Linked DNA regions of Homo sapiens: region 1 is linked to region 2. Evidence: fine-mapped expression QTL. A gene starts in region 2. The other region holds a variant in brackets. All regions are shown on one strand. Distances are from middle to middle.

Region 1 (15,636 bases), 57 kb after region 2:
GCAAAAAATGTGAAACTTCATCTCAAAAAAAAAAAAAAAAAAAGAAAGAAAGAAAGAAAAGAAAAAGAAAGAAACAGGTGTGGAGTGGCAGGAGATATGGTTGAGGGGAGACACAGGGGCTAGACTACGAAGAAGCTTGTGCTGAGGTACTTGAGGTACTTGAATTTATCCCTACAGCAATAAGATGCTCTTAAAAGTTGGATTTTGGTCTCAGAAATATGTTCCTGAGGCCAGGCGTGATGGTTCACACCTGTAATCCCAACACGTTGGGAGACAGGAGGATCTCTTGAGGCCAGGAGTTCAAGACTCGCCTGGGCAACATAGTAAGACTCCATCTCCACAAAAAAATAAAAAAAATAGCCAGACATAGAAGTGCATGCCTGTATTCCCAGTTACTCAGGAGGCTGAGGGGGAGGATTGCTTGAGCCCAGGGGTCCAAGGCTGCAGTGAGCTGTGATCATGCCACTGCAGTCTGGCCTGGGGGACACATCGAGTCCCCCCGCAAAAAAAAAGTTCCTGGAACCTGGCTTCTTCATTTTCATTTTCATTTTCATTTTCTGCCTGCTTATTCTTACTTATCCTTCAAGGCCCAGCCCAAATGCCACCTCCTCTGAGAAGCCCTCTGTAATCCCCCTAGCCAGAAGATCAGGTCCCTTTTTTTTTTTTGCCTTTCCTTGTATTGACTGGCCAGTCTGCTTGGAGGGTGGGAACTGCAATTTACACCACTTTGGGCTTTTTTTTTTTTTTTTTTTTTTTGAGACGGAGTCTCCCTCTGTCGCCCAGGCTGGAGTGCAGCGGTGCGATCACGGCTCACTGCAAGCTCTGCCTCCCGGGTTCACGCCATTCTCCTGCCTCAGCCTCCTGAGTAGCTGGGACTACAGGCATCCACCACGACACCTGGCTAATTTTTTGTATTTTTAGTAGAGACGGGGTTTCACCGTGTTAGCCAGGATGGTCTCGATCTCCTGACCTCGTGATCTGCCCGCCTTGGCCTCCTGAAGTAGTGGGATTACAGGTGTGAGGCACCGCACCCGGCCACTTTGGGCTTCTTATGTGGCTTGACAAGGGATCTAGCACATAGAAGGTGCTAACCCATGTTTGATGAATGTTGATGAATTTTCAAATGAAGGAAGTTTACTGGGCAATCCAGCTCTGGAGTCCTGTCAGATTACACCAGTATTAGTTCTCAAACGTGGGCATGCATCAGAACTACCTAGAGGGCTTGTAGATTGCTGGACCGAGCCCCCAAGTTTCTGATTTAGTAGATCTGGGGGTCTGAGAATTTGCCTTTTGAACAAGTAAGTTCCCAGGTGCTGCTGCTGCTGGTAGAAGGGACCATACTCAGATAAACTTTGGATGAAACATTCTTTACATGTGGCTGTGGGTATAGTTCAAGTGCTTCTGAGAATCAAGCTCTGGCGGGGACACTCTCAAGGGACCATGAATCCTGTGCTTTATCACAACCATCTGACCACCTGACCCTTCAAGGGATGTCCTTGGTCTTGACTACTGTCCCACTCCTTTGACTTGGAGGCAGGATTACTTTACCCTCTCCTGGTCCCTTTATTTATTTTAATTAATTTATTTATTTTTGAGACAGAGTGTCGTTCCAGTGTCGCCCAGGCTGGAGTGCAATGGCACGATCTCGGCTCACTGCACCCTCTGCCTCCTGGGTTCAAGCAACTCTCCTGCCTCAGCCTCCCAAGTAGCTGAGATTACAGGTACCCACCACCAGGCCTATCTAATTTTTTTTGTATTTTTAGTAGAGATGGGGTTTTGCCGTGTTGGCCAGGCTGGTCTTTAACTCCTGACCTTTGGTGATCCACCCACCTCGGCCTCCCAAAGTGCTGGGATTACAAGCGTGAGCCACTGTGCCTGGGCTATTTATTTATTTATTTGAGATGGAGTCTCGCTGTTGCCCAGGCTGGAGAGCAGTGGTACAATCTCGACTCACTGCAACCTCTGCCTCCTGGGTTCAAGCAGTTCTCCTGCCTCAGCCTCCCAAGTAGCTGGGATTACAAGTGTGCACCACCACACCCGGCTAATTTTTGTATTTTTAGTAGAGACGGGTGTTCACCATGTTGGCCAGGCTGGTCTGGAACTCCTGATCTCAGGTGATCCGCCTGCCTCGGCCTCCCAAAGTGCTGGGATTACAGGTGTGAGCTACCATGCCCGGCCCTCTCCTGGTCCCTTTCTCCCAGGGACTCCCAGAAAGGCTTCTCAGAGGGGCCCTGGTCACATTGTCACATTCTGTAACTGGCTTTCCTCCCCCTAAGCAGTTCAGTCTGAGAGCCCCAGAGAACAAAACAAATCCTGTCCTAGGAAGAAGCCTAGCACCTACTGAGGAAGAATTGAGTGCTGGGAATAGGGCCCCCATTAACAGCCAGCCCCTGAAGCTCTTAGGGAAATGCTCTGCAGACCCATGATCTCCCCAAGAGGGTCAGAACCAGGTCTTGTTCCTTAGAGAGCTGCTGCTGCTTCTTGGGCCTGTGCAGCTTCCCAGCCTCCAAGGCTGAGGGAAGGAGCCACTTAATCAACAGCTCCATTTCCTGCAGCACCTGGGGCTCCCCAACCCCTACCACCTCCCTTTGGGCTTCCCAGGTCAATTACCTGCCAGGCAACGGGCCTCAGCTCAGAAAATCTGACCAGCCAGAGACTGGTCTGACGGGGCCATGGGGAATTGAAATGACTTGACTCAGAGAGGCAACCCTGGGGGTAGGGACAGGGGGATCTGCCCCCACCCTTAGGGTAGTGTAATTCAGTCTTCAGTTTACCACTCCCTCTCTGTGTGTTGGGTGTCTGACTCACAGTAAGGCTGTGAAACCCATTGACCATCCAGGTATGAGCCTTGTGGAGATTGAAGAGGTGATGGGGTGGGATAGGTTTGCTCAAAGAGGCCTCCAAATCCTTCCAGGCTCAGCCCAGACCTTGAAGGCCTTTTTGCAGTTTTAGTAACACGAGCCGATTCCTGCGGTTGGTGGCTGTCACAGGACAGAAGCAGAGGACCCCAGCAAGGAGGTGAACCACTAACCCGGGAGTCCCCTCCCCAACCACAGAGATCCTTCAGAAGAGCTCTCTTTGGCTATGTTTTGTGTTTGAATCTAACTCAAAAGACCAAGCTGTTAGAGGCTCAAGTGTTCCCAAGAATCGTCCATGAAAACTGTTGTAGACACTGGGTCCAGGCCCACCCCAGGGAGTCAGACTCAGGAGTCTTGGCATGATTGAGAGATCTGTCCTAGGTTATTTTTACCCTGACTGGAGTCTCTTCCCTGTCCGCCCCCTCACCAGATAAACAGAAGCCAAGACACAAGGAGGAAAGCTTGCAAGGGCCTGGGTACGCTGTCGGATGTAGTGGAGGCAGGACTGGCCTCTCTGGAGAGACTTCAGCATTCTCTGCTTTGAAAAACGGGGCTGTAGACCTTTTAAAATGGCATGCATTTCTGCAGGAACACAAAGACACTTACAGTCCCCAAGGAATAGTCTCTCTCCTGCAGGATGGGAATGCCCCCAGAAGGCACTGAACCACTAATCCAAGAGGAAAGTTCTCAGATTCCTTCTTGCCTCAGGTCCCCCATATCAGACCTGAGGTTTTTCCTTCAACCCTCCCTGAGCACAGGCTCTGATCTGTCCATGGTTCTGATTTTTAATGGATTTCACTTGGGGGCAAGTCATGAGTTTTTTCATTCACTTGGAGTAGTTAACACTTACTGAACACTTACTATATGCCAGGGACTGTGAGCTACTCCTTACACGCAACCCCCTTTTTCCAAAGTAACCAGACATAATAGAAAAAACCACAGGTCAGGCTGGGCGTGGTGGCTCACGCCTATAATCCCAGCACTTTGGGAGGCCGAGGCGGGCGGATCACGAGGTCAGGAGATCGAGACCGTCCTGGCTAACACGGTGAAACCCCGTCTCTACTAAAAATACAAAAAATTAGCCGGGCGTGGTGGCGGGCGCCAGTAGTCCCAGCTACTCGGGAGGCTGAGGCAGGAGAATGTCGTGAACCTGGGAGGCGGAGCTTGCAGTGAGCCGAGATCCCACCGCTACGCTCCAGCCTGGGCGACAGAGCCAGACCCTGTCTCAAAAAACAAAACAAAACAAAACAAAAACCCACCACAGATCATAAATGTGTAGCTCAGTGAATTTTCTTTTTCTTTTTTGAGACAGAGTCTCGCTCTGTCGCCCAGGCTGGTCTTGAACTCTTGGGCTTAAGCCATCCTCTCACCTGGCTTCCCAAAGTGTTGGGATTACAAGTGTGAGCCACCATGCCTGGCTGAACATATACTTTTCTATTATACCTATCGTATTAGTTCGTTTTCACACTGCTGACAAAGACATACCTGAAACTGGGAAGAAAAAGAGGTTTAATTGGACTTACAGTTCCACATGGCTGGGGAGGCCTCAGCATGGCGGGAGGCAAAAGACACTTCTTACATGACAGCAGCAAGAGAAAAATGAGGAAGACGCAAAAGAAGAAACCCCTGATAAACGCATCAGATCTCGTGAGACTTACTCACTGTCACGAGAATAGCACGGGAAAGATAGACCCCCATGATTGAATTACCTTTCCCTGGGTCCCTCCCACAACACGCGAGAATTCTGGGAGATACAATTCAAGTTGAGATTTGGGTGGGGACACAACCAAACCATATCACCTATCTACATTATACATTCATATATTTGTGTATATACACACACACATATATGTTGGGTGGACTGTAGGTGGGTACCTTTTTAAATCTCCATTTTCCAGATGAGAAAGCTCAGTCTTGAAGTTGAATGAGGAAATAATAGAGCTGAGATTTGAACCTAATCCTGTCTGGCCCTGGAGCCTAAGCTGTTTCACCACTAACCGCTATGCTCCACTGCCTCCGAAAGCATAGGCTTTTTTTTTTTTTTTTTTTTTTTTTGAAACAGAGTCTCGCTGTCGCCCAGGCTGGAGTGCAGTGGCACGATCTTGGCTCACTGCAGGCTCCATCCCCTGGGGTTCACGCCATTCTCCTGCCTCAGCCTCCTGAGTAGCTGGGACTACAGGCGCCTGCCACCACGCCCGGCTAATTTTTTTTGTATTTTTAGTAGAGACGGGGTTTCACCGTGTTAGCCAGGATGGTCTCGATCTCCTGACCTCGTGATCTGCCCACCTCGGCCTCCCAAAGTGCTGGGATTACAGGCGTGAGCCACCGCACCCGGCCAGCATAGGCTTTTTAAAACTACTCATTGGCCGGACACAGTGGCTCATGGCTGTAACCACAGAACTTTGGGAGGCCGAGATGGGAGAATCGTTTGAGGCCAGGAGCTCGAGACCAGCCTGGTCAACATAGCAAGACCCCATCTCTAACAAAAATTTTAAAAAGTAAAAAATTAAAAAATAAAAGTATTCATTATGTGTCGGCCAGGTGTGACTCACGCCTGAGAATCTGGTACATTGGGAGGCCGAGAAGGGAGAATCACTTGAGCCTGGGAGGTCAAGGCTGCAGTGAGTTGTGTTTGTGCCATTACACTCCAGCCTGGGCCTCCCTGTCTCAGTAATAATAATAATCATAATCATTATGTGCCACACTGGTTGCTATCATTGAGGGAGGGAAGAGGGTAGCAAGACACAGTCACACAAAAAGGAAGATGACAGAAAAGCACAGGACGGGCATGGAGAGGAAAGCAGGTCACTTTTTTTTTTTTTTTTTTTGAGACGGATTTTTGCTCTTGTTGCCCAGGCTGGAGTACAATGGCATGGTCTTGGCTCACCACAACCTCTGCCTCCTGGGTTCAAGCGATTCTCCTGCCTCAACCTCCCGAGTAGCTGGGATTACAGGCATGCATCACCATGCCCGGCTAATTTTGTATTTTTAGTAGAGACGGGGTTTCTCCATGTTGGTCAGGCTGGTCTTGAACTCCCAACCTCAGATGATCCGCCTGCTTTGGCCCCTCAAAGTGCTGGGATTACAGGTATGAGCCAACGCGCTGGGCCTGCAGGTCACTTTTATCTTGGAAGATTACAGGAGGCTTCCTGGAGAAAGGAGCATTTGAAAAGGAAGGATGGGGCCGGGCGCGGTGGTTCACGCCTGTAATCCCAGCACTTTGGGAGGCCAAGGCGGGTGGATCACTAGGTCAGGAAATCGAGACCATCCTGGCTAACACGGTGAAACCCCGTCTCTACTAAAAATAGAAAAAATTAGCCGGGCGAGGTGGCGGGCGCCTGTAGTCCCAGCTACTCAGGAGGCTGAGGCAGGAGAATGGCGTGAACTCAGGGGGACAGAGCCTGCAGTGAGCCGAGATCGCGCCACTGCACTCCAGCCTGGGCGACAGCGAGACTCCATCTCAGAAAAACAAAAAGGAAGGATGGGGGCAAATTCTGGGCATGAAGGAGTGATAAGGGAAAGACTATCAGGCTGAGAGCTCTGGGTGCACAAGAAAACACAGGCTGCAAAGGCCCTCAGAGGTCATCTTGCCCATCTCTCATTGTCCACCAACCTACTGATGGCTTCCAAATTTATTTATCCAGTCCTGACATTTCCCAGACTCCAGACTCTTATTTAAACCAGTTGGATGTCAAATAGGTATCCCAAATTTAACATGGCCAAAATAGGGCTCCTGATCCCCACCACCAAACCCCAAACTGCCCCTCTTCCAGCCTTTCTTGGTTTTTGGCACCACCAACCATCAATTGCTCAGGTCCCAAATCTCAGTCATCCTTCCTTCCTCCCTTTCACCACACTCAGTCCATGAGCATATCCCATCAGCTGTATCTGTAAAGCACACCCTGAATCCGACCACTTCTTTTCTGTCAGTTTTTAAGTTTTGTGAATACACAGTAGGCATGCATGAGATGTTTTGAATACAAGCATGCAAGGCACAATAATCACATCATGGAGAATGAGGTATCCACCCCTTAAGCATTTATCCTTGGTGTTACAAACAATACAATTACACTCTTTTAATTATTTCCAAGTGACAATTACATGATTATTGACTATAGTCACCCTATTATATGCCATCAAATAGTAGGTCTTATTCATTCTTTCTACTTTTTTTTTGTATCTGTTAATCATCCCCACCTCCCCCCACCCACCCCCAATCCTCTTCCTAGCCTTTGGTAATCATCCTTCTACTCTCTATCTCCATTAGTTCAATTATTTTGAATTTTAGATCCCACAAATAAGTGAAAACATGTGATTTTTATCTTTCTGTGCCTGACTTATTTCACCTAACATAATGATCTTCAGTTCCATCCATGTTGCAAACGACAGAATCTCATTCTTTTTATAGCTGAACAGTACTCCATTGTGTATATGTACCACATTTTCCTTATCCATTCTTCTGTTGATGGACACAGGTTGGTTCCGCATCTTGGCTATTGTGAACAGTGCTGCAACATGGGAGTCAGATATTTCTTCGATATACTCATTTCCTTTCTTTTGGATCTATACCCAGCAGTGGGAGTGCTGGATCATATGGTAGCTCTATTTTTAGTTTTTTGGGGAACCTCCAAACTGTTCTCCATAGTGGTTGTACTAATTTACATTCCCACCAACAGTGTTCAAGGGTTCCCTTTCTTCCACATCCTCGCCAGCGTTTGTTACTGACTGTTTTTGGGTATAAGCCATTTGAACTGGAGTGCGATGATATCTCATTGTAGTTTTCATTAGCATTACTCTGATGATTAATGATGTTAGCACCTTTTCATATGTCTATTTGCCATTTGTTTATCTTCTTTTGAGAAATGTCTACTGGAATCTTTTGCCTCCCCCCACCTTTTTTTTTGATTTATTTTTATTTTTATTTTTTTTGAGATGAAGTCTTGCTCTGTCACCCAGGCTGGAGTGCAGTGGCATGATCCGAGCTCACTGCAACCTCCACCTCCTGGGTTCATGCAATTCTCGTGCCTCAGCCTCCCGAATAGCTGGGATTATAGACACATGCCTCTCAAAGTGCTGGGATTACAGGCACCTGCCACCACACCTGGCTAATTGTTGTATTTTTAGTAGAGACAGGATTTCGCCATGTTGGCCAGACTGGTCTCAAATTCCTGACTTCAAGTGATCTGCCTGCATCAGCGTCCCAAAGTTCTGAGATTACAGGTGTGAGCCACTGTGCCCAGAATTGTTGCCCATTTTTAAATCAGATTATTAGGTTTCTTTCAAGAAAATAGGAAGAAAAATTTTTCAAAAAAGATTATTAGATCTTTTCCTAGAGAGTTGTTTGGGCTCCTTATATATTCTGGTTATTAATCCCTTGTCAGATGGGCTGACCTCTTCTTACCACCTCACTGCTTCCATTCACACCCCTGAACAATCTGATCTTTTTTAAATGTCGGGCTCCCTGATTCATGGAAAAAAGGCAATGCCCTTGCAGTGGTCTGTATGATCTGGCCCTTGGTTACCTCTCTGACCTTATCCCTGACCAACTGACCATCTCTGACCCTCCTTCATTCCCTCCCTCCAGCCACACCAGCCCCCTGGCTCAAATGTTTCAGGCTCACACCTGCCCCCAGGCCTCGGCACTGGCTGTTTCCTCTGCCTGGAACTCATCTCCACCTGGCTAATTCACTGCCTTCTTCAAGACCTTGCTCAAATGTCCTCTGCCTTTTTTTTTTTTTTTTGAGACGGAGTCTCACTCTGTCACCCAGGGTGGAGTGCAGTGGCGTGATCTCTGCTCACTGCAACCTCCACCTTCTGGGTTCCAGAGATGCTTGTGCCTCAGCCTCCCAAGTAGTGGGGACTACAGGCATGCGCCACCATGCCCTGCTAATTTTCTTTTTTCTTTTCTTTCTTTCTTTTGTTTTTGAGATGGAGTCTTGCTCTGTTGCCCAGGCTGGAGTGCAATAGCATGATCTCAGCTCACCGCAACCTCTGCCTCCTGGGTTCAAGCAATTCTCCTGCTTCAGCCTCCCAAGTAGCTGGGATTACAGGCATGTTCCACCATGCCCAGCTAATTTTTTTTGTATTTTTAGTAGAGATGGGGTTTCATGTTGGCCAGTCTGGTCTGGAACTCCTGACCTCAGGTGATCCGCCCACCTTGGCCTCCCAAAGTGCTGGGATTACAGGCGTGAGCCTCTGTGCCCAGCTGCTAATTTTCTTTTTGTGTGTGTGTATTCTTAGTAGAGAAGGAGTTTGAGTTTTGCCATGTTGGCCAGGCTGGTCTTGAACTCCTGGCCTCTAGTGATCTGACCACCTCAGCCTCCCAAAGTGCTTGGATTTGAAGCCACTACACCTGGCTTCAAATACTCTCTTCCTATTGAACTGACGTTGACCACTCATTTTATTTTATTTTATTTTATTTTATTTTATTTTATTTTATTTTATTTTATATTTTATTTTATATTTTATTTTATATTTTATTTTATATTTTATTTTATTTTATTTTATTTTATTTTATTTTATTTTATTTTATTTTATTTATTTTATTGAGACTGAGTCTCGCTCTGTCACCCAGGCTGGAGTGCACTGGCGCGATCTCGGCTTACTGCAACCTCCACCTCCCAGGTTCAAGTGATTCTTGTGCCTCTGCCTCCTGAGTAGCTGGGATCACAGGTTCCTGCCACCACACCTGGCTAATTTTTGTATTTTTAGTAGAGACGGTGTTTTGCCATGTTGGCCAGGCTAGTCTCGAACTCTTGACCTCAAGTGATCCTCCCACCTCAGCCTCCCAAAGTGCTGGGATTACAGGCATGAGCCACCGCGCCTGGGCGACCACCCTATTTTAAATTGTACCTTCTCCACCCTGACCCTCTCAATTCCTCTTTTCTTGTCTTACCCCTCTTGACCCAGCTTCCCTATTAAATATAAGCATTTTTGTCTGTTTTGTTCTCTTCTTTATCCCAAATGCCTAGGATAGTGTTTGAAAAGAGGAGCTGAATATATTTTAAATGAATTTAAAAATCAGAGGCTGGGCACGGTGGCTCACGCCCGTAATCCCAGCACTTTGGAAGGCTGAGGTGGCTGGATCAATTGAGGTCAGGAGTTCGAGACCAGCCTGGCCGACATGGTGAAACCCTGTCCCTACCAAAAATATAAAAAATTAGCTGTGCGCGGTGGCAGGCACCTGTAATCCCAGCTACTCAGGAGGCTGAGGCAGGAGAATCTCTTGAACCCAGGAGGCAGAGATTGCAGTGAGCCAATATCGTGCACTGCACTCCAGCCTGGGCAACAGAGCAAGACTCCGTCTCAAAAAAAAAAAAATCAGTGTACATCTCTGTTTAAAATTCTCCCACTCACGGCTGGGTGTGGTGGCTCACGCCTGTAATCCCAGCACTTTGGGAGGCTGAGGCGGGCAGATCACGAGGTCAGGAGATCGAGACCATCCTGGCTAACACGGTGAAACCCTGTCTCTACTAAAAATACAAAAAATTAGCTGTGTGTGGTGGCAGGCGCCTGTAGTCCCAGCTACTTGGGAGGCTGAGGCAGGAGAATGGCGTGAACCCGGGAGGCAGAGCTTGCAGTGAGCTGAGATCGCACCACTGTACTCCAGCCTGGGCAACAGAGCGAGACTCCATCTCAAAAAAAAAAAAAAATTCTCCCACTCACACAGGAAGAATCTCACATCCTTCTCATGGCTTACACAATTTTTCTGGCCTCTTCTCAGACTTCATCTT[T/C]CCTTTTCTCTTCCCTGATTCTCCTCCTCCTTTCTTTTCTCTTCTTCTTCTTCTTTTTTTTTTTGAGACAAGTCTTGCTCTGTCACCCAGTGTGCAGGGGCATGATCATGGCTCACTGTAGCCTTGACTTCCTGGGCTCAAGCAATTCTCCCATCTCAGCCTCTCGAATAGCTGGGACTACAGGTGCATGCCACCACGCCCAGCTAATTCTTTGAATTTTTAGTAGAGACAAGGTCTTGCTTTGTTGCCCAGGCTGGTCTCAAACTCATGGGCTCAAGCCACCTCGGCCTCCCAAAGTGCCGGGATTAGAGGTGTGCACCACTGCGCCCAGCTGGCCTACTCCTTTCTGTTCCTCTAACATGTTTAGTGCTTTTTCTTTTTTTTTTTGAGGCGGAGTCTCGCTCTGTTGCCCAGGCTGGAGTGCAGTGGCGCCATCTCGGCTCACTGCAAGCTCCACCTCCCGGGTTCACACCATTCTCCTGCCTCAGCCTCCTGAGTAGCTGGGACTACAGGCGCCTGCCACCACGCCCGGCTAATTTTTTGTATTTTTAGTAGAGACAGGGTTTCACCGTGTTAGCCAGGATGGTCTCAATCTCCTGACCTTGTGATCCGCCCGCCTCGGCCTCCCAAAGTGCTGGGATTATAGGTGTGAGCCACCGTGCCCAGCCTACGTTTAGCGCTTTTTCCAGACCCGGAGTTTTTACACATGGTATTGCCTCTGAGTGGCATGTTCTTTCCCTAGATCTTTGCATGGCTGACTCTCTCTTGTCATTCTCATCTTGTCAGGTCTCATCCTGAATGACACCTCCTGAGAGACCCTTCCCTTGAATTCTCTATTTTTTTTTTTTTTTTGAGGCAGGATCTCACTCTGTCATCCAGACTGGAGTGCAGTGGCTCGATCATGTCTCACTGCAGCCTCGACCTCCCTGGCTCAAGCAATCCTCCCACCTCAGCCACCCAAGTAACTTGTTTTTCCGCCCAAGACGGAGTGTTGCTCCATCGCCCAGGCTGGAGTGCAGTGGTGTGATCTCGGCTCACTGCAACCTCTGCCTCCCGGGTTCAAGCAATTCTCCTGCCTCAGCCTCCCGAGTACCTGGGATTATAGGCACCCGCCACAATGCCCAGCTAATTTTTGTATTTTTATTAGAGACAGGGTTTCACCATGTTGGCCAGGCTGGTCTTGAACTCCTGACCTCATGATCGCCTGCCTTGGCCTTCCAAAGTGCTGGGATTATAGGCGTGAGCCACCGCGCCTGGCCAAGCATTCTTTATTCAGCTTTTCAGTAGTCCATCACATGAGTGTACCAGCATTAATTGAATCACTCCCATCTATTTGTTTGAGGGTGGGGTAGAGTTTTACCTTCTTGGGTCATATCTATTAGCATGTGCTGCCCCTGAAGTCTGGGCCTGCAATGAGAATCCAGGAAGGTTGAAGGCTGGGTTGCCTGCAGCTAAGGGCTCCTGATTGTTGAACCAAGTCTATATAGTTTCCTAGCTATGTGACCTTGGACTTATTACTTACTACCTCTGGACCTCAGTTTCCCTTTCTCTCTCTTTCTTACAGCTCTAGCTCAAAGACAGTTTCCTCTTCTGAACAGTGGGGTTGAGAAGCATACGTCACAGAGTTACTAGAGGCATCATTGAGTTAATCCAAGTAAAATAGCACAGAGCCTACTATACTTTAGGGTATACAGATACAGCACGACCATGCTGTCCTCATCCTCCACTGAGTCCTCGTGCCCAGAGTATGTTGAATCCTGTCCCAGACTCCAGCCCACCTCTAACCAACAGCACCTTCGCTTCCCTCCCACCTGTTTGCTTTCCCTGAATCGCTGGTGACCATGGCTCTGCTGCCATCCACAGCCCTGTGACTTCCCTTTGCTATGTGAACCTGGCACAATGGTTACTTGTATGTGTCCTCTTGGCTGGGCCACAGTGCCCAGATATGTGGTCAAACATTATTCTGAATGTTTCTGTGAATGTGTTTTTGGACGAGATCAACATTGAAGTTGGTGGGCTTTGAATAAAGCAGGTTGCCCTCCATAATGTAGGTGGGCCTCATCTAATCGACTGAAGGCCTGAATAGAACAAAAAGACTAACCTTTTCCAAGCTAGAGTAAGTTCTGCAGCTGGTGGCCTTTGGACTTGAACTGCAACAGCAGCACTTTCCTGGGGCTCCAGCCTGACAATTCACCCTGAAGAATTTGGACTTGCCAACCTCCATCATCACATGAGCCAATTTCTTAAAATAAGTCTCCCTTGGCAGGGCGTGGTGGTTCACGCCTGTAATCCCAGCACTTTGGGAGGACAAGGCGGGCAGATCACTTGAGGTCAAGAGTTCGAGACCAGCCTGGCCAACATGGTGGAACCCCATCTCTACTAAAAATACAAAAATTAGCTGGGCGTGAGGCTGGGTGTGGTGGCTCATGCCTGTAATCCCAGCACTTTGGGAGGCCGAGGCAGGCAGATCACAATGTCAGGAGATCGAGACCATCCTGGCTAACATGGTGAAACCCTGTCTCTACTAAAAATACAAAAAAAAAAAAAAAAAAAAAATTAGCCGGGCATGGTGGCAGGCGCCTGTAGTCCAGGAGACTGAGTCAGGAGAATGGCGTGAACCCGGGAGGCGGAGCTTGCAGTGAGCCGAGATTGCACCACTGCACTCCAGCCTGGGCGACAGAGCGAGATTCTGTCTCAAAAAAAGGAAAAAATTAGCTGGGTGTGGTGGTGGGCACCTGTAATCCCCACTACTTGGGAGGCTGAGGCAGGAGAATCACTTGAGCCCGGGAGGCGAAGGTTGCAGTGAGCCGAGATTGCACCATTGCACTCCAGCCTGGGTGACAAGAGTGAAACTCCATCTCAAAAAAAAAACAACATTAAAAAAAAAATCTCTCTGTCTTCACACACACACACACACACACACACACACACTCTATTGGTTCTATTTCTCTAGAGAACACTGACTAATACACCTGCGCAAGTCCGTCTCATCTCTGAGCCTCAGTTTCCTCATCTGTAGTATTGGAGGGAGATTAATTAGCTGGTTCATGAGGGGTTGCCCATCTCTGTTATTCTCTCTTTTTTCAAAGACTCTGTAGGTTACAAAGAGAGGTTTAAGTAACTAGGCAAAGCAGAAAAGATTGCAAAACACTTTATTTCCATCACATATGTGCCAAGACTTGTGTTCTGTATCCAGGAGTGTGTTAGATACTAACATAGTGTTTCATTTACATGTGTGTGAAACCTGGGTGAAGAGCCAGGGTTTCTCTCCCCCACCCGCCTCAGAGTGCTTGTCCTGGAATCAGAGTGTAAAACCCCCTCTTGAAGCAGACACCAAAACTGAACTTCCACCCGGTCATGGGCCCTGCTCTTCCTGCTGTCAGCCTAGTCCAAAGAGCAATGAGGGAACTGCTTAGGAGGGGTCTGAGGGTGATGAGGGCCTGGGGGCCACACAGGGGTGGGTGCTGTCAGGTACAAGCCCATCCCTGCCTGCAAATAACCTTGCACAGGGTCCTTCCTCATTCTTTCCTCTTCCTTTTTGTTTATGAGATGAATGGCTCTTCTGCTGTGGCTTTAGGGGCAGTGGGGAGGCAGGGAGCTATTTGGGAACAGCCTGGAAAGCTGACCCTGCAGAATCTCCCAGAAGCCTTGGTGTGGCTATGGGTACCCAGGCTGTAGAAATCCCAGATGGTCCTCTTCCAGACCTCTCCCCAACTCCAGCTCACAGTTTCAGCTTCTTGGCACTGAAAACACTACTAGGGGAAGCAAGAGTCCACTTCAGGGCTTCTGCTTGGCCTCTACCCACCAGGGCTTGGACTCTGGACCTGCCCCAGCTAGGTTGGGGTTTCTGGGACTGCATGGCTCTGGCCCTGGAATCACGAAGCAGTGGGGAGAGCCCTTCTCTGCTCTGAGCATGCAAACCTTCTCACACCAGCCCACGGTTTCCAGGATTTCAGCCCCTAGGATGCCTGGGCCAGGACAGGAGAAGGAGGAGCAGAGGGTGGTGTTTCGGGCTCCAAGAAAGTCTTCGTGACCTTGGACTTGTCACTTGGCTTCCCTGAGCCTCAGTTTCCTTGTCTGAAAAAGTGGAGTGATAATCTCGATTTCTCAGGTCAACTGTGAGGTTGAAATAAGATATTGGTGGTGACAGGGCCTGTCACAGTGGGAGGCATCAGTGGTGGCTTCCTTTTCGACTGTGAAATCCTGGGCCAGCTGGTCAGCCACGCAGGGCAGCACCCAGTAGTGAGGGAGGAGAGGCCCGTGTGCTAAGGCTGCTTCCTGAGCCCAAAGAAGGGGCCAACCCAGCTCCGAAGACCAGGTTAGAAGTGGACTTGAGCAGAGGAGAGCAGAGGAAAGGCCAGGAGAGGGTGAGGGCTGGGATCCACAACCAGCCCTTGCCAAGTGGCTGCTGAGAGAGCAGGTTTGTGCTCCCTGCTCTGCAGACGTGCAAGCCCCAGGGCAGAGGAAGGGTTGTCGGGAGAGGACCCCAGCTTCCCTCTGGTGGGATGCTCCAGCTCGAGGGGCTGTGGAGGGGCAGTTTGGGCCGTGAGGCTGGGCTGGAGGGCACTGAGCTTAGAGGAAGACCCCTGCAGGCTGGAACCAGTGTGCGAGGCAAACAGGAGAGGGCTGGGGGACAGCTGGACAGGAGGTTCAGCAACCACAGCGGGGCCAAGGGACAGTGAGGGCAGGGGGCACTGGAGGAGGCTGGGAGAATCATGAGGCTGTGGACCTGGAGAGAGCGGCTGAGCTGGGTAACAGGAACCCGGGGTCTGGAACAGCTCCAGCTGCTCCCGGCAGCCATGTTGTCCCTGTGGGCCAGGGCCCAGGAGCCCCTCAGCCTGGTCCCAGCAGCCCAGGAGCCCTGGAGCTGAGCAGGAGGCACAATCCATGGGGCACAGGCGCTCATGCACGTGCAGGGTCCGGCTCCACCACGCCAGCTCGGCCTGCAGGGACTGGATCTCCTTCCGCAGGGCGAGGTTGTCTTTTTCCAGAGACTCGTGCTGCTGCAGAGAAGCAGATGGGCGGGGAGGGGAACCTCAGCCAGT
Region 2 (13,299 bases):
GGCTCCTGGGTTCAAGGAATTCCTGAGTAGCTGGGATTACAGGTGTGAGCTACCCCACCTAGCCTGTGTTTCTATTTTAATCTTACTTGGGAGCTGGACTCTTACATTCTAATGCCAAAACTCAGCCTGAAGCAAGGGCAACCGCCCTGGCCCACCGGGCAGGGACCTGTATTCCAGTCCCACCCATGGGTGGTTTCTTCTCCTCTTGTGACCCTCAGTTTTATCCTATGTAACTGGGGTTGGGTTAGTAAGTGGAGATAGTTCATTACCTGGAAGGAGCAGGCTCCATTCAGGGAGGCAGGCTGATAGGACAGCCATTCAGAAAGTGCTTATGGGCCAGGCACGGTGGCTCATGCCTGTAATCCCAGCACTTTGGGAGGCCAAGGCGGGTGGATCATGAGGTCAGGAAATCGAGACCACCCTGGCTAACACAGTGAAACCCCATCTCTACTAAAAAATATTTAAAAAATTAGCAGAGTGTGATGGCGGGCGCCTGTAGTCCCAGCTACTCGGGAGGCTGAGGCAGGAGAATGGTGTGAACCTGGGAGGCGGAGCTTGTGGTGAGCCAAGTTTGTGCCACTGCACTCCAGCCTGGCTGACAGAGCGAGATTCTGTCTCAAAAAAAAAAAAAGAAGAAACTGCTTGTGGAAGGAATCTAGAGCTCTGCCTTCTTCCATGGCAGGCTGGGGGCAGTACTGTGCTCACCAACTGATTATTACATTAATAATAATATACCGGGTTGGGTTGCTCACTCCTGTAATCCCAGCACTTTGGGAGGCTGAGGCAGAAGGATCGCTTGAGCCCAGGAGTTTGAGACCAGCCTGGGCAACATAGCTGAATCCCTGTGTCTACAAAAAAAAAAAAATGTTTCAAAAAATTAGCCGGGCGTGGTGGTGTGTGCCTTTGGTCATTTGAGCCCAGGAGTTTGAAGTTGCAGTGAAGCTATGAATGCACCACTGCACTCCGGCCTCGGTGACAGACGGAGATCTTGTCTAAAAAAAAAATTAATAGTAAATATAATTGCCACCATGAATTAAGCCTGTGTGATGTCCTAGGCCTTGGGCTTGTTACTTTACGTGCACGATCTCATCTGCTCTGCTGTTCACCATATGCTCATGAGGGAGGTTCTATTAATATCCCCATTCTTAAGGGAGAGGAGACCAAGGCTACGTGCCTAAATGCTGTGGAGCGAATGAATGAAAAAGCATTAAGATTCAGAAATCATAAAAAGAAAAAAGAGGCTTGGAACAGTGGCTTACACGTGTAATCCCAGCATTTTTGGGAGGCTGAGGTGGCCAGAGTCACTTGATCCCGGGGGGCAGAGGTTGCCGTGAGCTGAGATTGCACCACTGCACTCCAGCCTGGGTGACAGAGAAGACTCCACCTCAAAAACAAAAAAAGGAAAGAAAAAAGAAAAAACACCACTTCTCCTCCTTCCAAAGGTGGTGGGGATAGAAGGGGATATTCTCTTGGTCCAAGAAAAGTTATCCTTTCTAGGCCCCTGGAGCCACTCTGGGAGTTTGCTCTCCTCCAGTGAGGGAGACCCCAGGGTCAGGCTGCACTCACATCTGTCTGTTGTAACTGAACTGGTGGGCACATCCGTCTCTTAGGGGTTGGTGCCTGCAGGTCCATTCCTGAGCCCCAGTTCCCAGTGCCATGTGTGTACCACAGCAGAAGATTAGACAGGACTGAGAGGACACAAAGATACTTCCCCAGACAAGCTCTGTAGAAAACCAACTCCAGAGACAGTCATTCTCCAACCTAGCCTCGGAGTAGGAGCTAAAGGAGTGAGCAAAAAATCCTCGCACAGTAAAGGGGACGATATTCTCTTGGGAGGAAATGGGGTGTTGGGAACCCCATGGGACATTCTGCAACGAAGTCCCAAGCCCCACTTTAGGTCCAGCAGTTATTTTTTTTTTTTTTGAGACGGAGTCTCGCTCTGTCTCCCAGCCTGGAGTGCAGTGGCGCGATCTCAGCTTGCTGCAACTTCTGCCTCCTGGGTTCAAGTGATTCTCCTGCCTCAGCTTCCTGAGTAGCTGGAATTACAGGCGTGCACCACCACGCCTGGCTAATTTTTCTGTTTTTAGTAGAGATGGGGTTTCACCGTGTTGGTCAGGTTGGTCTCGAAGTTTTGACCTCATGATCTGCCCGCCTCGGCCTCCCAAAGTGCTGGGATTACAGGTGTGAGCCACTGCGCCCAGCCTTCGGTCCAGCAGTTCTATATATATATATATATGTAATTTTTTTTTTGAGCCAGTACCTCATTCTTGCTCAGGCTGGAGTACAGGGGCATGATCACAGTTCACTGCAACCTCTGCCTCCCGGGCTCAAGCAATCCTCCCACCTCAGCCTCCCCGAGTAGCTGGGACTATAGGCTCGTGCCACCATGCCCAGCTAATTTTTCTATTTTTTGTAGAGATGGAGTTTCACTATGTGGCCCAGGCTGGTCTTGAACTCTTGGGCTCAAGCAATCCACCTGCCTCTGCCTCCCAAAGTGCTGAGATTACAGGCATGAGCCCCTGCACCTGGCCTAGGTCCAGCAGTTCTAACAAATACACTGGCCCTGGGCACTGCATTTAGGGGCTTCTTCTACTGGACAACTGGATTCCAGTCAAGAGGTCAGGGGAAGTTTGGGGTCAGGATTCCTCCCCATAGAGAGAAAATGGGGAGGGCCAGGCTTTGCCCAGGCCGGGGGGCATCCTTCCCACCTTAGATTAGGTGAAAACTCATCAGGCAAACTGTGTGCTTCAGACCTCAGGGGCCCTGAAGGAGTATCTCCCTCCCCCCAGGGATGGCCCACCCTCTGGGGTGAGAAAGGGATCACAGAGGTGGCCCGGGGGCTGCGGCTTTTGACTCTGTCCTGGGTGGAGAGCTTGGGTTTTATCAGAGGGAAGGGCTTTCATGGAGGAAGAGAGGCCATCCCTCAAGGATGGGTGGAGCTGGAGGGAGGAGATCCCAGGCAGCTGGCAGGGAACTGGGTGTCCAGGCCAGAGGAGCTCCTCCAGGTAGCTCAGGGGCAGCCAGGAGAACAGGGGGATCTGGAACACACCTGAAAAAGCAAACTTCATCTATAAATACATGGAACTTCATCTATAAATACAATACTGTTGGATTGTACAACTGAAATTGGTGACTTTTTTTTGTTTTGAACATACATCTTTCGTTGCATATAACACAACGTGATGCATTTCGTTTAAATTGTGGTAAAAGCCACACATGGTGGCTCACACCTGTAGTCCCAGCACTTTGGGAGGCCAAGGCGAGAGGATCACTTGAGTTAGAGACCAGTCTGGGCAACATAGCAAAACCCTGTCTCTACAAAGAATACAAAAAATTAGCCAGGAGTGGTGGCATGCGCCTGAGGTCCCAGTTACTCGGGACTGAGGCTGAGGTGGGAGGATTGCTTGAGCCCAGGAGGCAGAGGTTGCAGTGAGCCAGGATCGCGCCACTGCAAAAAAAAAATAAAAAAATAAAATAAAGCCGGGTGCAATGGCTCACTCCTGTAATCCCAGCATTTAGGAGGCTGAGGCGAATGGATCGCTTGAGCTCAGGAGTTTGAGACCAGCCTGCGCAACATGGCGAAACCCTGTCTCTACCAAAAAAAACAAAAATTAGCCTGGCATGATGGCGTGCATCTGTGGTTCCAGCTACTTGGGAGGCTGAGGCAGGAGGATTGCTTGGGCCTGGGAGGTGGAGGTTGCAGCAGTGAGCTGAGATGGTGCCACTGCACTCAAGCCTGGGTGACAGAGTGAGACTCTGTCTCAAAAAACAAACAAACAAAAAATGTTCAATCTTGCATCCTCCAAGTGACACTGTGCCTATTTTGAGACCCAGTTCAAATGCCACCACTTCAGAAGTCTTTTTTTTCAGCCGGGCACAGTGGCTCACGCCTGTAATCCCAGCACTTTGGGAGGCCGAGGTGGGCGGATCACGAGGTCAGGAGATCGAGACCATCCTGGCTAACACGGTGAAACCCCGTCTCTACTAAAAATACAAAAAAACTAGCTGGGCTTGGTGGTGGGCGCCTGAAGTCCCAGCTATTCGGGAGGCTGAGGCAGGAGAATGGTGTGAACCCAGGAGGCGGAGCTTGCAGTGAGCCGAGTTTGTGCCACTGCACTCCAGCCTGGGCAACAGAGCGAGACTCCATCTCAAAAAAAAAAAAAAGTTTTTTTTTTCTTCCAAGAGTCTTATCCCTCTCCTCTACTCTTCAGTGCCCCATTTCTCAAATGGAACATCTCTGTTTTTTGTTTTGTTTTTGAGACAGGGTCTCTGTCACCCAGGCTGGAATGCGACAGCACAATCACAGCTTACTGCAGCCTCTAACTCCTGGGCTTATGTGATCTTCCCACCTCAGCCTCCCAAAGTATTGAGATTACAGGTATGAGCCATCACACCTGGCCTTAGCACTTCCTTTATATAAAACACCAGTCCTCTGTGGTCAGTCTAGCCTTGAGACCAGGGCACTGGTACCCAGGGGGCTTGTGGAGATGGGCTGTAGCCAGCTGGGAGGTGGAAGCCTGGCCCCTGGCCCCAACTTTTGATGACACGCTGTGTGACACTGGGCAAGGCGCTTCTCCTCTCTAGGCCTTGGGGTCCTTGCCTGGCTGCAGAGGCTCTGTGGGCCTGCCCTCCCTCAGCTTGTTCAGGGATGCAGAAGAGCCTGGGAGGTGGGCAAGGAGGGAGATCATGGATTCCCATTGGACAGACAGGGACACCAAGGGCCGGATGGGCAAGGCCTGCCGGAGGTTCCTGAGCAAGCAGAGCACTTGCTGGGTCTCCAGTGCCGGAGTCCTGGACCCCAGCCTGGTGAACTGCGGCCCTCGGTGCAGGCCTCTGCCTTCTGTTGCTTTGGTAGGCGGACACCTCTTGCGCACCCAGGCTTCCTCTGCAACCGGGAGGATGGCTGGGTGGTTCCGCTGGAGCACTGAGTGGTCACCAAGACCCAAAGCAAGATGGGGCAGACTCTGAAAAGGCCCCTAGTCCCCTCCCCGACCTCATTATCTGGTCTCATCACCCTTTCCTACTGCTCACCATGGACCAGCTGCTCATCCAGGCAACATTTCAGGGTGGAGATTTCACAGCAGTGTAGCGGGATGGAGTTCAGGGCTATAAAGAGTGTTGGGGTCCAGGATCCTAGGACGGGGGCCCAGGACTGCAGGCTGGGAACTTTTGGTTAGCATGCCAAACTCCTGGACTCCCACCTGTGCCTTGCATGCCAGCAGCAGGATTTTGAGCAAGAGACACTGACCCACCCAGCACATCTTAGGGTCCAGGGGGGCTGAAAGGTCCATCCGGGAAGGCCAGGCTGCCTGGGATGAGGTGGCAGCTCAAGGAGAAAACCTCCTCCTCTCGGGCTTTGCCACTCCAAGACTGGCCCTTTAAACTGGAGACCATGATGTCACCATAGACAGCAAGGGACGGGAGGGGGACTGCAGGCCTGAGGATGGACTGCATCTCCCAGCAGGCTTGGGTGCACCACACCCCTCCCAGCAAGCACTGACTCATCGCAGACTTTTAACTAGTCCAGTGCTGGTTTCCAAGGGGTTTCTGAAGTGTCTGGTGGTTCTGGGGTAAGGGTGAGGTTCCTGGGGGGATGGCCTAGGGCATAGAAGGCCCAGGCCAAATCTGTGGGCCTAGCGTAGCTTGCTGCGACTCCTTCCTGTCAGTGTCCTGGCATCACCCTACTTTCCTGGTGCAAACTCCTAAGCCCTCCTCTTTCCCTATGCAGCCTCCCTTCTAGAATCCAGGCTTCCCGCCCCCGGCTAGAGCCCATCCCACTCTGCTCTCTGGCTTCAAAAGCTTCGGCCTTCACCCCCGAGTCTGCCCTCAGGGGTGTCCCCTTTGGTCTGGCAGCTCACTTTAAACGGCGCGGGGACTACATCTCCCAGCGGCCCCGGGCCTTCCTGACGCAGCCCCCCCTTTCAGCCCGCGGGGAGGTGCGGGCCGGGTGGGGGGAGGTGACTTGATGTCATCCTGAGCAGCTGGGCGGCGGGTGCCGGTGCGCACGGAGCCGAGCCGGGGCTCCCGTTGCGCTGCACCGCGTTGGGTCGGAGTCCCAGGACTTCAGCGGAGATCCGCGCGCTGCGACGGCCGGTGCAGAGCCCGCCGAGCGCCCAGTCCCGGCCCGGGGCTGAGTTGGGGGCATGCTCTAGCCGCCCCCCCGGAGCCCGGGAGAGAACCCAGGAGCGCCGCCGCCCAGCCCCAGCGCCCCGAGCGGAACCGCTGCGAAGGGGCCCTGAACGGCCGTCGCCCTCCCTACGGGCAGCCCCCGGGGGTTGGCGACCGAAGTCTAGGTTTTCGAGAAGTGAGTGTCCCCCACCCCATGAGGTTTGGGGGGCCAGGAAGGAGGAGCTGAGGTGGGGGAGGGTGCCAGGTTCTAGGAGCGGGGTGGCATCGGGACAGCACCTCCAGTCTTGGGGTTGTCCCAAGTGGCCGGGATTAGTGGAGCAGCGATGCGTTCCATTCTGAAAGGGGCAGGGATGACGATCGGGGCTCCATTCTGAGTCGGGGCTGGCTTGGGGGATAGGCCCTATTCTGGGAGGGGTTGTTTTGGAGGCTTTCTGTCTGAGAGAAGGGAGGGACATGTCCAGGATGGGAGGGGGCTGCACCCCTATTTTAGGGTCTGGGCAAGGATAGGAGGGAAAAGACCTGGGCACTCCACGCAGCCTCCCGGCTCTCCTGAGGAACTGATGGGCTTTCTCTGTCTCTTTCTTGCTGATCTTTCTGCCTGACTTCGTTTTCAAAAGAGCCAGGGTGGGAACCCTAACTGGACTCTTCGGGACCCCCAGGAAGGATCTGAGGCCTGAGCCATCCTCCTTTCTACCCTGTCTGCCCCCCAGGACTGGGCAGTTGCAGGAGGCCCTGGGGGGGGGCCCAGGACTGTGGTTGTGCCCCCCCCCCAAAGGCCGGACAGGATGGGACCAAGTTAGTCTGTCCAGTCTCACCCAGCACCTCCCAGGCCCAGAGAGAACCCCCGGGGCTCTGAAAGCTTGCCCTGCCGCCTGACCGCCATGGAGACGAAGCTGCCCCCTGCAAGCACCCCCACTAGCCCCTCCTCCCCCGGGCTGTCGCCTGTGCCCCCACCCGACAAGGTGGACGGCTTCTCCCGCCGTTCCCTCCGCAGAGCCCGGCCCCGCCGCTCCCACAGCTCCTCTCAGTTCCGCTATCAGAGCAACCAGCAAGAGCTCACACCGCTGCCCCTGCTCAAAGGTGAGCTGGCTGCTGGCCACTGGGGGAACCGAACCCCCGAGGGGACCAGCAGGGCCATGGGGAGGGGTGGGAGGCAGCGGGCAGCTGCCAAGAGAGAGAGTTTGGATACCCCTCCAGGCTAGGTTCTCCGCCATCAGAACTGACCCCAGCCCTCCAGCCCTCTCTGCTGACACATGGCCTGACTGGCCTGTCATCCTTAGAGGTGGGACATCCGAAGGTGGTGCCACCCTAGGGGCAGACCAAGGCCAAGGGTGGGGCCCATAGCCTGGGTTCCAGGGGGCCACTATCAGCCCAGCCAGCTGCCAGATCCCTGGAGCAGGCGCTTGGCAGGGTTCCCTGGGATCACCACATAGGTCCCTTCCCCAGCCTTGGGCCATAGGGCCAGACTGGCCAAGCCTGAGGACACCGTAGAGATCCTTGGCCCTGAACCCCTCCCCATTTCTGGCCCTTAGAACAGGGTGCCACCTGAGAGGGAGGCAGCAGCTGTTTGGGGCACCTGTGGAAAGCTGCTGCATCCAGGATTTGTGATCTTGCTTTAAAACTCAGGCCATCATACTCTCTGAGCCTGGATTAGGAGGAAGAAAAGCAACCCTCAACCCCCAGGAATGGAGGAAGGGACAGTAGTTGTTTGCTGTCTGCAAGGAGCAGGAGATGGCACAAGAGCATGGGGCCTGGGGGCAGCAGAGGCAGCCGTGGAGATTAGGAGGGTCTGCCCCACCCACAGCTGGGGCAGCTGGGGGAGCTGGGGCCCAGGCCCAGGATGCCCTCTCCTCCCCAGATGTGCCGGCTTCCGAGCTGCACGAGCTGCTGAGCCGGAAGCTGGCCCAGTGTGGGGTGATGTTTGACTTCTTGGACTGTGTGGCCGACCTCAAGGGGAAGGAGGTGAAGCGGGCAGCCCTCAACGAGCTGGTGGAGTGTGTGGGGAGCACCCGGGGTGTCCTCATCGAGCCCGTCTACCCAGACATCATCCGCATGGTGAGCACCTGCCACCCAGGCTCCGAGGGCCGGCCGAGAGGGCGTGTGAGCCCCGTTTCCTGTCCGCAGGACCCCTGCGTGGAGAATAACCCTGTACTCATCGGCTTGGCCTCAGTCCACGTCTTCCTTCCCCCCGACCTGCTGCTGCCCAACACCCACTGAATGCCTCCGGGCCTGCCCCACGTCCACACCTTTGCTTATGCTTGCCTGAGACCTGGAGTGCCCTGCCCCACACCCCATACCATCCATGGCCTGGCTCAGGTGCCGCCTCTGCCAAGAAGCCGCTGTCAATAACCAAGCTGGAAATCTCCCTTTTCCTGCCCGTAGACCTCACAGCTTCTAGCCTTGTTCTCCCCACTGGATTGCACCTGCCTAGAAGGCAGGGATGTGTCCCATTCACCCCTGGGTTCCCAGCCCCTGGCCCAGGGCTTGCACGAACTAGGCGTTCAGGTGATGATTGCCCAAGGAATGAACTGCTTGCTGGGGCAGATGCTGAAATCAACCCATTAGAACTTTGAATGAGGGCCGGGAGCAGCAGCTCTCATCTGTAATCCCAGCACTTTGGGCCAAGGCGAGAGGATCACTTGAGGCAAGGGGTTCAAGACCAGCCTGACAGTGAGACCGCATCACTACAAAAATTTAAAAATTTGCCGGGCATAGTGGTGTGCTACTGTAGTCCAGCTACTCAGAAGGCTGAGGTGGGAGGATCGCTTGAGCCTGCCTGGGAGGTTGAGGTTGCAGTGAGTCGAGATTGTACCACTGCGCTCCAGCTTGGGCAACAGAGCGAGACCCTGTCTTGGGAAAGAAAAAAAAAAAAAAAGCTTTGAATGAGAGACTCCCTGGCTTCTGTCTTCAAGGGCTTTTCCTTAATGAACCCCAACTCTGCCACTCAGATCTCAGTGAATATCTTCCGGACTCTGCCGCCCAGTGAGAACCCTGAATTTGACCCTGAAGAGGATGAGCCCAATCTTGAGCCTTCGTGGCCACACCTGCAGGTCTGAAGGGTTGGGGAAGACAGAGATCCAAGTTTCAGAAGAGATCCAAGGCATGGGGAGAGGGCCTCCTTAGCCCCTAGACAGTTGGATGAGGGCCATAGGGTGGAATGAGTGGGTGAGGCTGTTACTGAACTCACCTTTTTGTCTGTCCCCCTCCCCCAGCTGGTATATGAGTTTTTCCTGCGTTTCTTGGAGAGCCCAGACTTCCAGCCCTCCGTGGCCAAGAGATATGTGGATCAAAAGTTTGTCCTGATGGTGAAGTGGGGAGCCCAGGCTGGGTGGTACCACAAGGCAGGGGCAGGCTCTCTGAGGGGCCAGGGATAGGATGGAAGCAACCTGGGGTGGACCTTTCCCCTGACCCTGACCCTGACCCTGACTCTGGTTCCCACAGCTCCTGGAGCTATTTGATAGTGAGGATCCCCGGGAGCGTGAGTACCTCAAGACCATCCTGCACCGGGTCTATGGCAAGTTCCTGGGTCTCCGGGCCTACATCCGCAAACAGTGCAACCACATCTTCCTCCGGTGAGTGGCTGCTGCCTGCCCAGCAGAGACCTGGGGAGGGTGAGAGGGCTGTTAGAAGACTGCGGCAAAGGCCATGTGCGGTGGCTCACACCTGTAATCCCAGCACTTTGGGAGGCCGAGGTGGGTGGATCACCTAAGGTGAGGAGTTTGAGACCAACCTGGCCAACATGGTGAAACCCCGTCTCTAATAAAAATACAAACATTAGCCAGGCATGGTGGTGGGCACCTGTAATTCCAGCTACTTGGGACGCTGAGACAAGAATTACTTGAACCCAGGTGAAACCCCGTCTCTACTAAAAATACAAAAAATTAGCCGGGCGCGGTGGCGGGCGCCTGTAGTCCCAGCTACTCGGGAGGCTGAGGCAGGAGAATGGCGTGAACCCGGGAAGCGGAGCTTGCAGTGAGCCGAGACTGCGCCACTGCAGTCCGCAGTCCGGCCTGGGCGACAGAGCGAGACGGATGAACCCAGGAGGTGGAGTTTACAGTGAGCCGAGATCATGCCACTGCACTCCAGCCTGGGCAACGGGGAGACTGTGTCTCAAAAAAAAAAAGAAAAGAAAACAAAAAAAAAGAAGACTGCAGCAAAGGCTCCTGGGCTGCAGGGGCCCTTGTAGAACTTCTGTTTTCCAAGCCCTTTCTCAGTAACGTATTACATATTGATTATACAAAGCCTGTGAAGTTGACAGAGAATGGGTATTTATTTCCATTTTACAGATGAGAAAGTAGAGGCCAAGAGAGATGAAATGGTTTGCAGGGACTGGGTCAGTCCAGGGGCCTAGGAGCTAAATCATTTGACCCTTATCATGCCAGGCCATAAGGACCCAGAGAGAGATTCTTTCTGCAAACATGCACTGAGCACCAGCACCCACTGGGCATCAAGGCTCACGTGGCCTTGTAGTTGAGACCATGGCTCTGAAGCTGTATGGCCTACATTTGAGTTTGGTTCCAACGTTTGGGTGAACTTTGGCAAATTACTTAAGCTCTCTCCTAGTTTGCTCGTCTTTAAAATGGGAATGCTGGCTGGGTGCAGTGGCTCATGCCTGTAATCCCAGCACTTTGGGAGTTGGAGGTGGGCAGATCACTTGAGATCAGGAGTTCAAGATCAGCCTGGCCAACGTGGTGAAACTCCGTCTCTACTAAAAATACAAAAATTAGCTGAGTGTGGTGGTAAACACCTGCAATCCCAGCTACTCAGGAGGCTGAGGCAGGAGAATCGCTTGAGCCTGGGAGGTGGAGGTTGCAGTGAGCCAAGATTGCGCCACTGCACTCCTGCCTGGGCGACAGAGCGAGATTCCATCTCAAAGATAAGATAAAAATGGGGATGCTGCTTGTACTAACTCAGGGACCATTATCGAGGTGACATGGGGCCTTGCCTGCAAAGCACTCAGCATAGCTCCTGGACTGAGGCCGGGACTCTGAAACATTAGTTGTTATTAGCTACAAAATGGGTGAGCCATGATCCCTGTCCTCCTGCACCTTGGAGTTCATTAGATTCCCTGCCTATTAACATTGGGGTTGTTTTATTTAACCGCTGAGTCTTGATTTCTTCATCCATGTGATGGATTTCTTAAGCCCCATCTCCCTGGATAATTCTGAGACTTACATGGTACGGAGTAGATGTGCTAAGTGTTTGTCATTCTCTTGGTTGACTGGCAAGAGAGCCTTGAGCTTGGGACTCAGTGGCAGAGGTGGCTGGGCTGAGAAGGGCATTTCAGTGTGGGGGGGCGGGGATCTCAATGGGGCCTGGTTTGGGATGTTGGGAAGGGAGCGCAGCCTCTGGGTTGGGGGAGAGTTGGATGAGCGTGCCGTGCAGGTGAGGGTGGGCAGGCAGGATGCCTAAGGGGGCACTGGGCCTACCCTGCTTGCTTTGAGCCCACCTGCGTTCTTCTCTTGCAGGTTCATCTATGAATTCGAGCACTTCAATGGTGTGGCTGAGCTGCTGGAGATCCTAGGAAGGTGATTCTCCCTGGGCCTCAGCTGGAGCTCAGGATTCTGGAAGGAGGGACTGGGGCCAGGTCACCTGAGCCCTCTTCCTCTCTTCTGCCTCCTCCTCAGCATCATCAATGGCTTTGCGCTGCCCCTGAAGACGGAGCACAAGCAGTTCCTGGTTCGCGTCCTGATCCCCCTGCACTCTGTCAAGTCGCTGTCTGTCTTCCATGCCCAGGTGAGGCCCAGGCCTGTCCCTGCTGCAGCAGGAGCTCCAGACAGTCAGGGCAGCCAGTGGGTCCTGGAGGTCAGATCCTCCAGGGATCCTATCTCACCTTCTTTGTCTTTATAATTCTGTTCCATCTACCTTAGAAAATTCCCACTGGCGCTTTAAGGCTAACCTCAGATATCAGCTCTGTGAAGCCAGGCTTTTCTTCTCTACCCTCCCTTGGCAGAATTACATTCTTCTCCATCTATATTCCCAAATATTTGGATACACAAATCTATTATGGGAGATTTTGATACACAATTTTTTTTTTTGAGACAAAACCGTACTCTGTTGCCTCAGCTGGAGAGCAGTGGTATGAACATGGCTCACTGAAGCCTCTACCTGCTGGGCTCAAGCAGTCCTCCCTTCTCAGCCTCCCGAGTAGCTGGGACCACAGATGTATGTGCCACATGCCTGGCTAATTAAAAAAAATTTTTTTTTTGTAGAGACAGTGTCTTGCTATGTTACCTAGGCTGGTCTCAAACTCCCAGGCTCAAGTGATTCTGCTGCCTCGGCCTCCCAAAGTGCTTGGATTACAGGCGTGAGCCACCACACTAGCCATATTATGGAACCTTTTGCAAAATTTATAAAGATGAGTTTGTTGACTGTCCCCACTCCCCGCGAGATCAGAGTTGTATTCCCAGCACACTGAATGTGATGCCTGGTACATCCTAGGCAGGTGATAAATGCTTGGTGAATAAGAAAGTAACAGGCCGTGGGTGAGCAGTATTTGGCATTCTGTCCTGGACAGCAAGTCCTTGGCGCCTGGTGCCTTCCTGACCTGTCTTCCTTCCCTCCACCTGTCACCCCCTGCAGCTGGCATACTGTGTGGTGCAGTTCCTGGAGAAGGATGCCACTCTGACAGAGCACGTGAGTACCTCTGGGGGCTAAGGCAGCCTCTCACCTCTGCAGGCGTGACTCCTGTCTCATCTCCCACAGGTGATCCGGGGGCTGCTCAAATACTGGCCAAAAACCTGCACCCAGAAGGAGGTATGAAGAAGGGCTTTGATGCCCGCCAGAGGGAGGCTGGGAGGGCTCGGCCTCTAGAAGGCAGTCAGGTGTGTGTATGTGTAGGGGGAGATGTGAGCTGCTGCCCCTCTGTCCCTACTCCCCTCCCCAACCCACCCAGGTGATGTTTCTGGGGGAGATGGAAGAGATTCTTGATGTCATCGAGCCCTCCCAGTTTGTGAAGATCCAGGAGCCCCTTTTTAAGCAGGTGGCTCGCTGTGTTTCCAGCCCCCATTTCCAGGTATGAGGCAGGACAGGCGGGGATGGGAGCAGGGCTGGCCTGGAAAGGTTGGGTAGCTGACCTAATAAAGCTCCCTTTGCCCTCAGTTTCTCCTCCAATCCCGGGTCTGGTAATGGGGAGATGCTGGACTTAGGGTCAGGAGACCTAGGGTGAAG

Evidence for each region.
Region 1: its variant is fine-mapped to the expression of PPP2R5B in whole blood (TOPMed, PIP above 0.99).

What each region holds. Positions count from the first base shown.
Region 1 is chr11:64,974,219-64,989,854 of GRCh38, forward strand. BATF2 (basic leucine zipper ATF-like transcription factor 2) reads right to left here. Exons shown (of 3, transcript NM_138456.4): 3 at 13,727-15,594. The coding sequence ends at 14,911. Among named protein-coding and RNA genes, the nearest start is that of MAJIN, 9.9 kb to the left of the region's middle. RefSeq lists an enhancer at 15,446-15,636. The variant T/C (reference allele first, on the strand shown) is at 10,592.
Region 2 is chr11:64,918,725-64,932,023 of GRCh38, forward strand. It overlaps PPP2R5B (protein phosphatase 2 regulatory subunit B'beta), which reads left to right and starts at 5,965. Exons shown (of 14, transcript NM_006244.4): 1 at 5,965-6,304; 2 at 6,747-7,209; 3 at 7,988-8,184; 4 at 9,078-9,179; 5 at 9,342-9,434; 6 at 9,571-9,701; 7 at 11,598-11,657; 8 at 11,757-11,865; 9 at 12,712-12,765; 10 at 12,835-12,885; 11 at 13,025-13,144. The coding sequence starts at 7,011. RefSeq lists enhancers at 4,926-5,723, 5,344-5,413, 5,554-5,723, 8,672-9,871 and silencers at 5,834-6,053, 6,154-6,263.